Regions from separate parts of the Homo sapiens genome. Here region 1 is linked to region 2. Evidence: fine-mapped expression QTL. Tissue or cell type: whole blood. Region 2 holds a variant in brackets; the other region holds the start of a gene. All regions are shown on one strand. Distances are between the middles of the regions. Region 1 holds the start of TARS3 (threonyl-tRNA synthetase 3). Region 2 has its middle 25 kb from the start of TARS3.

What was found. PIP is the estimated chance that this variant, and not a neighbour inherited with it, causes the effect.
Region 1: it holds the start of TARS3, and the variant in region 2 is fine-mapped to the expression of TARS3 in whole blood (TOPMed, PIP above 0.99).

Annotation. Positions count from the first base shown.
Region 1 is chr15:101,721,469-101,726,848 of GRCh38, reverse strand. It overlaps TARS3 (threonyl-tRNA synthetase 3), which reads left to right and starts at 2,376. Exons shown (of 19, transcript NM_152334.3): 1 at 2,376-2,758; 2 at 3,685-3,756. The coding sequence starts at 2,462. RefSeq lists a silencer at 2,091-2,980.
Region 2 is chr15:101,747,021-101,752,400 of GRCh38, reverse strand. No RefSeq gene overlaps it. Among named protein-coding and RNA genes, the nearest start is that of TARS3, 25 kb to the right of the region's middle. The variant C/T (reference allele first, on the strand shown) is at 3,048.

The DNA.
Region 1 (5,380 bases), 26 kb after region 2:
CATGATATCCTATGGAATACAGCAGCAATCAAAGTCCTTGTGGACTAGATTATCACATAAAACTAAAGAGTTTATATTGTCTTGTGGTGATACCCTGTGAAGGTGTATTGCCAGCCTTGTCAGCTGAAATAAAATGGTGCTCGATAGCCCTTAACTAATAGATATAAAGAAAGAAGTATTAGCCAGCTCAATAGGTGCATATCAGGTGCTAGGGGTTATGCTGATTTACTCCAACAATGAAATCATATCTGGAAGAGCAGCTGCAACTGGAATCACCATCTAATTAAATTTATATTAATCTACTATAATTCTCTAACATCCATTTGTCTTCTACATAGGCTAAATGTAAATGGGATGGTAAGGTAAGGTAAATGGGGTGTGATGAGAATCTCCACCCCTGCATCTTTCAAGTTCTTGAAGGCAACAGTAATCTGTGCAATTCCTTCAGGAATGCAGTATTACTTTTGATTTATTATTTTTGTATGTTGATAAAGTTCTAGTGGTTTCTGCTTGGCCTTTCCTACCAGAATAATAGCCTTATGTCCGAGGGTCAGGGAAACACTGTAGGGATTCTGCCAGTTTGGAGTATATCTATTCAAACTCTGCATTCTGGAACTGACGAAATAACTACAGTGTGAGTTTGGAAACCCAATGGGCTCACTGGGTATTGTGTGATCCTAGCTAAAACCTGGAAATAACCCAAATTTTCCATCAACAAATGAATAAACAAATTATGGTATATCCATACAATGGAATACTACTCAGAAAAAAAGAACAATAGATACACACAAACATAGGTAAATATCAAAATTATTGTGCCGACTGAAAGTAGCTAAACAAAAGGAGGACATACGGTGTGGTTCCATGTGTAGAAAAATCAAGAAAATGCAAACTAACCTATAGTGACAGGAAGCAGACTGGTGGTTGCCTAGGTATTGGGAATGGAGACCCAAGAGAGACAAATTCCAGAGGGTCCCGAGGAAATTCTGGGGTGGCTTAAGTGGGTCCATGACATTCAGTGATGTGTTGGTCATGACAGAATGGCAGAAGCAGAAACTCCATGGCAGTGGATTGAGAAATGATGAATAATGAGGAGTCAGTGGGTCCTATGTAACTGTATCCAGAGGCTTCCTGAGGAAGGACTAAAAAAGATACAGTGATATTGGTTAGCAACATACTTCATGGAATCTCCTCCTGGGTGCTGTTTGGGATTCCACTTAGCTTAATCCAATGAGCTTGTCCCCCTCCGCTCCTTCTCCTGCACTGATTCTGCTCCTGGAGTGGAATTTACCTGCTTTTCCTCCTTGCTAACATCTCCCAACCTTTATTTTCCAGAGCAAAATAAACCTTTTCCCCTTTCTCAAAATTTTCTCCCTTTCTCAAACCACACCAGTCCAAGCTAAGCTCTTCCACTTCAGGACTCTTATAAGGGCATTATTACCTGTATCACATTATATGACATGCTCAATTAAATTCTGCCAAAGTTGAAAAGTACTAGTGTTAAGTGTGTAGAAACTGGCATCAGACTATCTGAGTTTGATTCCCCCTTTGTCATGTAGTGGCTGTGTGACCTTAGTCAAGTAACACAGTCTCACTGTGCTTCAATTTCTCCAGCTATAAGCGGATATAACAGTATCTCCTGTTATGAAGATTAAAGGAGTTACTACTGTTACAGAGTTTAGAACAGTGTTTGTCACATCCTAAGCCCTAAGAATAGTGATAAAAATCAATTTCTGTTCCTGCTCCAGGAAGTTTCACGCTCATGGTTAAGAGGGATACAAAGATATATGTGGCATTTGCCCTAGACTCAAGGAGCCAGTAATTTCGTGCTGGTCGGATTTAGATTTCACAGCGATTTTCTATATGCCCTGGCCCAGAGGCCTCAGTACTTGGGCAAGTTTGGCACGAAAGGCCAGAAAGTCCATTTATAATGAATGGCCACTTTTTAGAACCTGTTTGCAAGGCAAAAGAATGGTGACTGCCAGAATTCAAGAGGAAGAAAGGGTGAAGCCTTTTTGGAGAACGCAGACGATGGCCTTTTTGCAAGGTTTTGGAAGATTTTCGTTTCAACGGACTAAAAACTACTGCCAATAGCCTCTAGACAGGCCTCGAAAGGCAGGGGAGGCCCTTCAGACCCCATTTCCCCACTGCCCGTGACCCTAAGGTGGGCCTGGCCTCAGGCCCCGCCCCGCCCCGCCCCTGCAGGGTATCTGGCCTCAGGCCCCGCCCCGCCCCGCCCCGCCCCTGCAGGGTATCTGGCCTAGGCCCCGCCCCTCCCCGCCCAGCGCCCCGCCCCTGCAACGTGTAGGCCTCGGCTCCAACGAGGCCCCATGGCTCCGTCCCCGCCCCATCGCCCCGCCCCTCCCGGGAGCCCTGTCTTCTGCCGTGCGCTGAGTGTCCGCGTCGCCCTCGCCGCAGTCGCGGGCACCCCGCTCGGCGTCGGTGCCTGAGGGAGGCCGCGATGGCGGCCGAGGCCCTGGCGGCGGAGGCCGTGGCGTCGCGCCTGGAGCGGCAGGAGGAGGACATCCGCTGGCTGTGGTCGGAGGTCGAGCGCCTGAGGGACGAGCAGCTGAACGCGCCCTACAGCTGCCAGGCGGAGGGGCCGTGCCTCACGCGGGAGGTGGCGCAGCTCCGGGCCGAGAACTGCGACCTGCGCCACCGCCTGTGCAGCCTGCGGCTGTGCCTCGCCGAGGAGCGGAGCCGCCAGGCCACGCTGGAGAGCGCGGAGCTAGAGGCGGCGCAGGAGGCCGGCGCACAGGTAACCGGGCGGTGGGGACACTGGAGAGGACGCGGGCGGGGCGGGCCGAGACGGTGCGCACCGAAAGGTTTTCAACTGCGGGGGCAGGTGCGGGGGCGCCCCGGGGGAGTGCCCTCCCAGTGCCCTGCGGCTGGCCCGCCCTGCCCTGCTCGGTGGTCCCGTGTGGCCTGGGGAGCCGCCGGATTTCCAGCAGTCGCCAGACTTAACCAAATGCTGTTGATTTCTCAATTCGTCCATTAAAGAGCCTGCCACGCATCTTTTTCAGTAGCAGAAATAGTGTTTTCATTTGTTTGAAAAAATGCTGGAGTGTTTAAAACTCATTCTTTCCTTGGTCAGAAAGACTAACAGCTGCGTATGTAAACTCTCATTCCCTCTGGTTCTTTTTTGTTGTTGGGTTTTTTTTGGACGAGAAGTTTTCGCTTTTTGTGCTCTTGTTTTGGTGGTTCATCTTGAGAGGATAGCTGTATATTTAACATTTTTATTTAATACAGTATTTTATGATTTGTAGAAAGGATAAATTATCTTCTTTTAACATCATACTTTCTGAGTCCTGAAGCTTCTCAGGCTGAGATGTTCTGCAGTCCTTTAGGAAGGACAGCTGCGGTGAACTAGCAACATCTTCAGGAAATAGTGCATTTGATGTGGCGGGCAGCAACCACACATTTTCCAGCCACATTATTTGTTTAAAGTTCAGGACAAAAGGTTTTCAAGAGCACAATATATTAAATGTGCTTAGCAACAGTGTGACAGGAAGGACTGAACCCTGGAGAATGACTTGCCCACTGAGAGCTGTAGCTGGTGGTCAGGAGAGCCCAGCTATGAGCCTCTAAACACGGGGCACTTGCAGCCTGCTGGCATGACTCTCTTCTTAAAATGTGTTGCTTTTTCTTGCCATTGATGTGAGTCATTTATAATTTATCTTTCAGCCTCCTCCTAGTCAAAGCCAAGACAAGGACATGAAAAAGAAGAAAATGAAGGAAAGCGAGGCTGACAGCGAGGTAAGTTGTTGCTGTGGAAACAATATAAAATACTACCTGTAATTTTAAATATGTGTATATAGTTAATTACCTAGGATTTCCAATAAAAATTACTGATTAAATTATTATTTGGGTCACATTAGTGTATTTAAAACTTTTCAAGCCTTAAATATGAGATGTCTTGAGAAATGAGCTGCCCATGTTTAATAAACACGTGTATTTAATCTATTTAAGTTGTGCTACTAGAGTACTAGAGTTGGTTTTTTTTGTTTGGTTGGTTTTTTTTTGTTTTTTGAAGGCGGAGGTTTGCTCTTGTTGCCCAGGCTAGAGTGCAATGGCATGATCTCGGTTACTGCAGCCTCCACCTCCCAGGTTCAAGCGATTCTCCTGCCTCAGCCTCCTGAGTAGCTGGGACTACAGGTGCATGCCACCAAGCCCGGCTAATTTTTTTTTTTTTTTTTTTTTTTTTTTAGTAGAGATGGGGTTTCACCGTGTTAGCCAGGAGGATCTCGATCTCCTGACCTCATGATCCGCCCACCTTGGCTTCCCAAAGTGCTGGGATTACAGGCGTGAGCCACCGCCCCCGGTCTTTTTTTTTTTTTTGTATTCGAGAAACTAGCTACTTTGCTTTTGTATATAAAGCATTAAAACAATCAGTAAGTATTTATCTAGCATCAACATTTGGTAGGAGTGAAGAAGGAATACCTAGGCCCAAAGAAGTTAGTCTGGTTGAGGAATTCAGGCAGACTCAGGACAAACAACTAGAGAACAGAGTACGATGGTATACAAGTAAGTGCTGTAATGTGTGACTCTGTACACGTTCTGTAAACAGTAGAAAAGGGAGGTGTCATGGGGGCTGGGCGTGGGGCTGTCTCAAAGGAAAAAAAAAAAAAAAAGGGAGATGCCAGCGGGTAAAATAGGTAGAGGAGGCAGGCTTTGAGGTGGACCTTTAGAGCTAAGGAGAAGTTAGATAGGCAGAGAGGAGCCTTTTGGAGGTGGGAAGTACACATGCTCTTAGTCTTACAGTTGGGTTATGTCCCAATAAAACCAATGTGAGTTAAAAATGTATTTAATACACGTAAGCTAGTGATCATCGTAGTTTAGCCTAGCCTACATTAAAAGTGCTCAGAACACTTAGATTAGCTTACAGTTGGGCAAAATCCTCTAACATAAAGCCTATTTTATTATGAAGTGTTGAATATCTCATGTAATTTATTGAATACTGTACTGAGTGAAAAACACAATGGTTGTATGGATACTCAAAGTACAGTTTCTACTGAATGCATATGACTTTCACATCACTAAAGTTGAAAAATTGCGGCTGGATACGGTGACTCACGCCTGTAATCCCAGCATTTTGGGAGGCCAAGGCAGGTAAATCATTTGAGGTCAGGAGTTCGAGACCAGCCTGGCCAACATGGCGAAACCCCATCTCTACTACAAATACAAAAATTAGTCTGGCAGGGTGGTGCGTGCCTGTAATCCCAGCTACTCGGGTGGCCGAGGCAGGAAAATCGCTTGAACCTAGGAGACAGAGGCTGCAGTGAGCTGATTTCGTGCCCCTGCACTCCAGCCTGGGCGACAAAGCAAGACTCCATCTCAAAACAACAGCAACAACAACAACAAACCAAAAAACAACAACAAC
Region 2 (5,380 bases):
GCGCCTGCTGGGACTGTGTGCTGGAGTTGAAGCCCTGAGTATGGCTTTTCAGATGTGGCTTCTACACAGCTTAAACTCAAAGATCTGCCTCCCCATTGCCCTTTTCTCACTCAGATAGGGACGCTGAGGTCCAGAGGAAAGGTCGCCTGTGCAAGTCACAGATCTGGGAGGGGACCCTGGACCTATCATGCTACCAGGACACCTGTCTACTCAGGTTTTTCAAATTTTTTTTGGAGATAGGATCTCACTCTGTCGCTAGGCTGGAGTATAGAGGGCGAGATCACCGCTCACTGCATCCTCAACCTCTTGGGCTCAAAGTGATCCTCTAATGTCAGCCTGTCGAGTAGCTAGGACTATAGGCACGTGCCACCACCAAGCCCAGCTATTTTTAAAATTTTTGTGTAGAGGCCAGGTCTCACTATGTTGCCCAGGCTGGTCTCGAACTCCTGGGCTCAAGCTATCCTCCCGCCTTGGCCTCCCAAAGTGCTGGGATTACAGGCATGGACCACTGTCCTCAGTCCCATGTTATATTTCTATGAGACAGCTCTGGTCTGGACCATGCCTCCCTCCCTGGACCTGGTCCCATAGGGCTGGTCAGCATCTCCCCCAGGCCAACATGGCCACCTGCATCCCCAGTGCCACAGGAGCCGCCTACCCCCATGAGGCGGTGCATGCACATTGTAGATCATGATGTGCATGATGGTCTTGGGCTTCGCACCAACCATGAGGTTCCACACGGTCTTGTTGACAATGGCCATGTAGGAGTCCACCAGGTTCTGGGTGGTTTCCATTTGCCGCTCCAGCTGTGGGTCCATGGAGTGCATGAAGCTGTGGGAGCCATTCTCCTCAGCCTTGCTGTCCTGTCACGGAGAATGCAAGCGCATCAGGGTGGCCAGGCCATGCAGCCAGGCTCCAGCAATCCCTAGGATCTCAGTCCCTCCAAGGGTACCTGGAACATTGAAGCACAGAGAAAGGCAACTGGCCTGAACACACACCCAGGTCCCCACATGCTCTAGATGGTTTCAGGCCTCTGCCTCTCAGGACCCCAGACTCCCCTGATTCAAGTCTCATCTTAGTCCTGACTCTAGTGCCCAGAATTTGCCTCAAGTTACCAATCCAGAAATTGGAAAAGAACATCTCCAGGTACCTTGCTTGAAGACCTGGCCAGAGCTTGCGCCAGGCTGCAGATGCCTGGCAGGAAGCAAGAAAAGGGCATACTCACTTTCCCCTTGTCCTAGGAGGCCCATGCACCAACATTGCCACCGCCGCTGCCACCAGGGAACAGAGCAAAGTAGACACACACAGACAAGAAAACGGGAAGGGTTGAGTGAACCTGGGACACTGCACCCCAACTTTAATGTGTTGTTGAATTCAATTAGCTAATATTTTGTTGAGGATTTTTGCATCAATATTCATCAGTGATCCTGGCCTGTAGTTTTCTTTTTTGGATGTATCTTTAGTTTTGGTATCAGGGTAATACTAGCCTTGTAGAATGAGTTTGGAAGTATTCCCTCCTTCTCTATTTTTGGAATCGTTTGGGTAAGGTTGGTATTAGTTCTTCTTTAAATGTTTGCTAGAATTCAGCAGTGAATCATCAGGTCCCAGGCTTTTCTTTGCTGGGAGACTTTTCATTACTGCTTCGATCCCATTATTTGTTGTTGGTCTGTTCTGGCTTTGGATTTCATCCCGGTTCAGTCTTGGTAGTCTGGATGTGTCTGGAAATTTATCCATTTTTAGTAGGTTTTCCCATTTGTTTGCATATAGTTGCTGATAATAGCCACTAGTGATCCTTTGAGTTTTTGTGGTATCAGTTGTCATGTTTCCTTTTGTTTGTCAATGTTATCTTTTTAAAAAAATAATTTTTTTTTTTGAGATGGAATCTTGCTTTGTCACCCAGGCTGGAGTGCAATGGCACAATCCTGGCTCACTGCAACCTCTGCCTCCCAGGTTCAAGTGATTCTCCTGCCTCAGCCTCCTGAGTAGCTGGGATTACAGGCGCGTACCACCACCCTGGGTAATTTTTCTATTTTTAGTAGAGACATGGTTTCACCATGTTGATCAGGCTGGTATTGAACTCCTGACCTCATAAGGTACCCACTTCGGCCCCGCAAAGTGCTGGGGTTACAGGCATGAGAATCCGTGCCCAGCCCACATTTTGTTTTTAAATTTTACTTATTTACTTGTTTTTCTCTTTTGCAAACAGGGTCTCATTCTGTTGCCCAGGCTGGAGTGCAGTGGTGCAATCATGGGCTCACTGTAACCTTGAACACCTAAACTCAAGAGATCCTCCCGTCTCAGCCTCATGAGTAGCTAGGACTACATGCCTGCACCACCACACCTGGCTAATTTTTCTAGTTTTTGTAGAGAAAGGGTTTTGCTATGTTGCCCAGGCTGGTCTTGAACTCCTGGCCTCAAGCAATCCTCCTGCCTTGGCCTCCCAAAGTGCCAGGATTACAGGCATGAGCCACCATGCTGGGTCTATACATTTTCTTTTCCATGTTATATAAAGTATTCTGTATGCATCCTTCTGGAATTTGTTTTTCTCACAATATTATATTGCTAAAGTTCTTATTGTTGTTTATTGCTGGCGTTCATTCTTTTTGACTGCTTGTGAAATCACCAGAAGATAGACATCCTGAGATCTCTTAAGAACTGCTGCTGGGAGTATACACTGGTATGACCACTTTGGAAAACAGTTTGGCTCCATCTCATAAGGTTCAATATTCACACTCCTCCTAGCCCAGTAATTCTACTCTACGTGGAAGAGAAATTCTTGCCTATATAAAACAGGGGATGTGGACAAGGAATGTTCCTAACAGCTCTGTTCAAAATAGCAAAAACCTATTGCCCATCAACTGGAGAGTAGGTGACTAAATTGTGCTTTTTATTCCCTTTGATTTCCTGTAGTCTTACAATGCGAGTGGCTTTCCCATGGCTAGCTTGGGGAGGGGGATACTCTTGGCAACTGAGTCTGTGGTGGCAGCCCTGCTTAGCCCTAGGGCAATCGGTGCTGACCAAAACAAGAGTAAACAGAACAAGGTGCCCCA[C/T]TGAGCCAATGCCTTGAGTCCCTGGAGGTACAGTCTTGTATCTGTAGGAAATAGCCATCATACAAATCAGTCTTTTCAAATGCTCTGTCATTTGAAAGGCTGAGTCCAAAGGACATTCTCCTTTAAAACATTATAAAGTTTACTGAGGCTACCATTTATCGAGCAGTTATCATGTGCCTGATCATGTACTAGTGTACTAATTGCATGCATTATTTTATTATTTTATTTATTTACTTATTCATTTATTTGAGATAGGGTCTCTCTCTGTTTCCTGGGCGGGAGTGCAGTGGTGCAATCACAGCTCACTGCAGCCTCAAGCTCCTGGGCTCAAGTGGTCTCACCTCAGCCTCTCGAGTAGCTGGACTGTAGGCCCAAGCCACCAAGTCCAGCTAATTTTTTAAAAAAACATTTTCATAGAAATGTGGTCTGGCTTTGTTGCCCAGGCTAGTCTCAAACTCCTGGCTTCAAGCGATCCTCCTCCTTCAGCCTTATTATTGCATTTAATCGTCACCATCACCCTGTAAGAGTGGCTGGGGGTAGGTGCTCCACACAGTAGCAATGTAGCAACCTCCACTCATAGGTGACAATGAGACTCAGTGTAGTCAAGCAACTTCTCAAAGGTCACACAGCTGGAGGGTGGCTGAGCCAGGATGAAGACCTAGGACTCGAAAGCTGGTGCACCAGTAAATGAGAAAATCTCTGGGGGTTCAGGATCGCTTCCTCCCAACAAATCTTTCTCCAAAGGTTCTAAAAACAATAACAGATCCATCTTTCATAAAGCAAACAAAACTAGCAGCCCCTTCATTTTAGAGGGGGGAGGGGGGATAAAGGTTAGCTAAGCTCCAGGGCATCCCATTTTAATCCTACACATTTATCAGGCAACTGCCAGCACAGCACCCCAAACCTAAAGAACCATGCACAGCTGTCTCTGTGGGGCATGGCGTGTCCACGGACGTAAAGATTGTCCAATGTGTGTTTACAGGCCAGTGGCATCACCCTCAGTCACAGCTTAAACGGCAGCTAGGCCTGGCCTGCTAGGCACCACCGTGAGAATCTGCTGAGTTTTCCAACTAGTTTATCTACTGTTTGCAATGAAAGACGCCCTGAAAAGAAGGGGTGTGGGTGGGAAGAGTTCTGATTTGAGGTGCCCTGATCCAGCACGATCTCCTTCCCCAGTCACAGGAATCAGAGGACTCCATCTGTAAACACAGCCTCAAGCTCTGTCCCCCAACCCCCTCTTTCAACCAGGTGCCACCCTCTGCTTCTCTTCCATAGACAGCCTAGGCTGCCAGCATTCCCTTAGGATCTGTGCCCTCGGGCCTAGCTTAATTTTTTCCTCTCCAAAGAGTCATCTGTAGGGCCAGAAGCCAGCAAAGCCTAACTCATTACTGGACGGCAGTTCCTCTGCCTTTCACTGATTCCTACCTTACCCTGGGGTTTTACGTTTCTTGTCTCAACACTAACATTTCTCACTCCTCCACAAGTTGAATTGCTCACTCCAGCCAACTGAAGCATGCTCTTCTTGACACAGTTAGCTCTCGGCACATGGTCGGTGCTAAAAAAAAAATGAGCATTATGTCAATTTCATTGATCAACAAAAGTGATGCCTCCACTGCAAAGTCAAGTTGATAGTGCCTGGGCCTCTGAGTTCAAGAGCCTTCTAGACAAAGCGCTCTGAGCTGAAACATGAGCATGCACACATATGCATCTCTCTCGGTCTCATGAGATAATCTGGATACTTGGTTGTTATCCTTGAGCATTTTCCTACCTCATTAATGCACGTGTAGCCAACACAATAATTATCATAGCTAATAACGGCTAAAGCTGAGGACTTTCCTGAGCCAGGCAGTGGCTTTAAAAACTTTAATGTTTTCACAGACTCTCATTGAATAATTTCTGTTTTTCAGATCAAGAAACTGAGACTTACTATCACATTTGGGATTAAGTTTAAAAAAAAGAAAGAAACTGAGGCTTAAAGTTGTCTAGTATTTCACAGTCAGCAAATGGCAAAGTTGGAAATTGAACCAGGCAGTAGAGCCCCAGGATCCTGTGCCTTTACCCATTACCTAGTGTTGGCTACACAAAACTAGTGTGTACACAACTTCAACTATAGTTTAAGCTATAGTTTAAGTGGGTGACATATTTTTCACTACACTTTATGTAGGTGACTTTCAGTTTGGGGGTATTCTACTTATGCAATCTATTGAGGTGGATATTAACTGAGAACAAATAGAAACTAATGAACTCTGAAAAACATAAAACATGAGCAACATGATGTCACCGCAAAACACAAAACAGCCCACAGCCTTCTTGTGACTGCATTTTGCTGACAG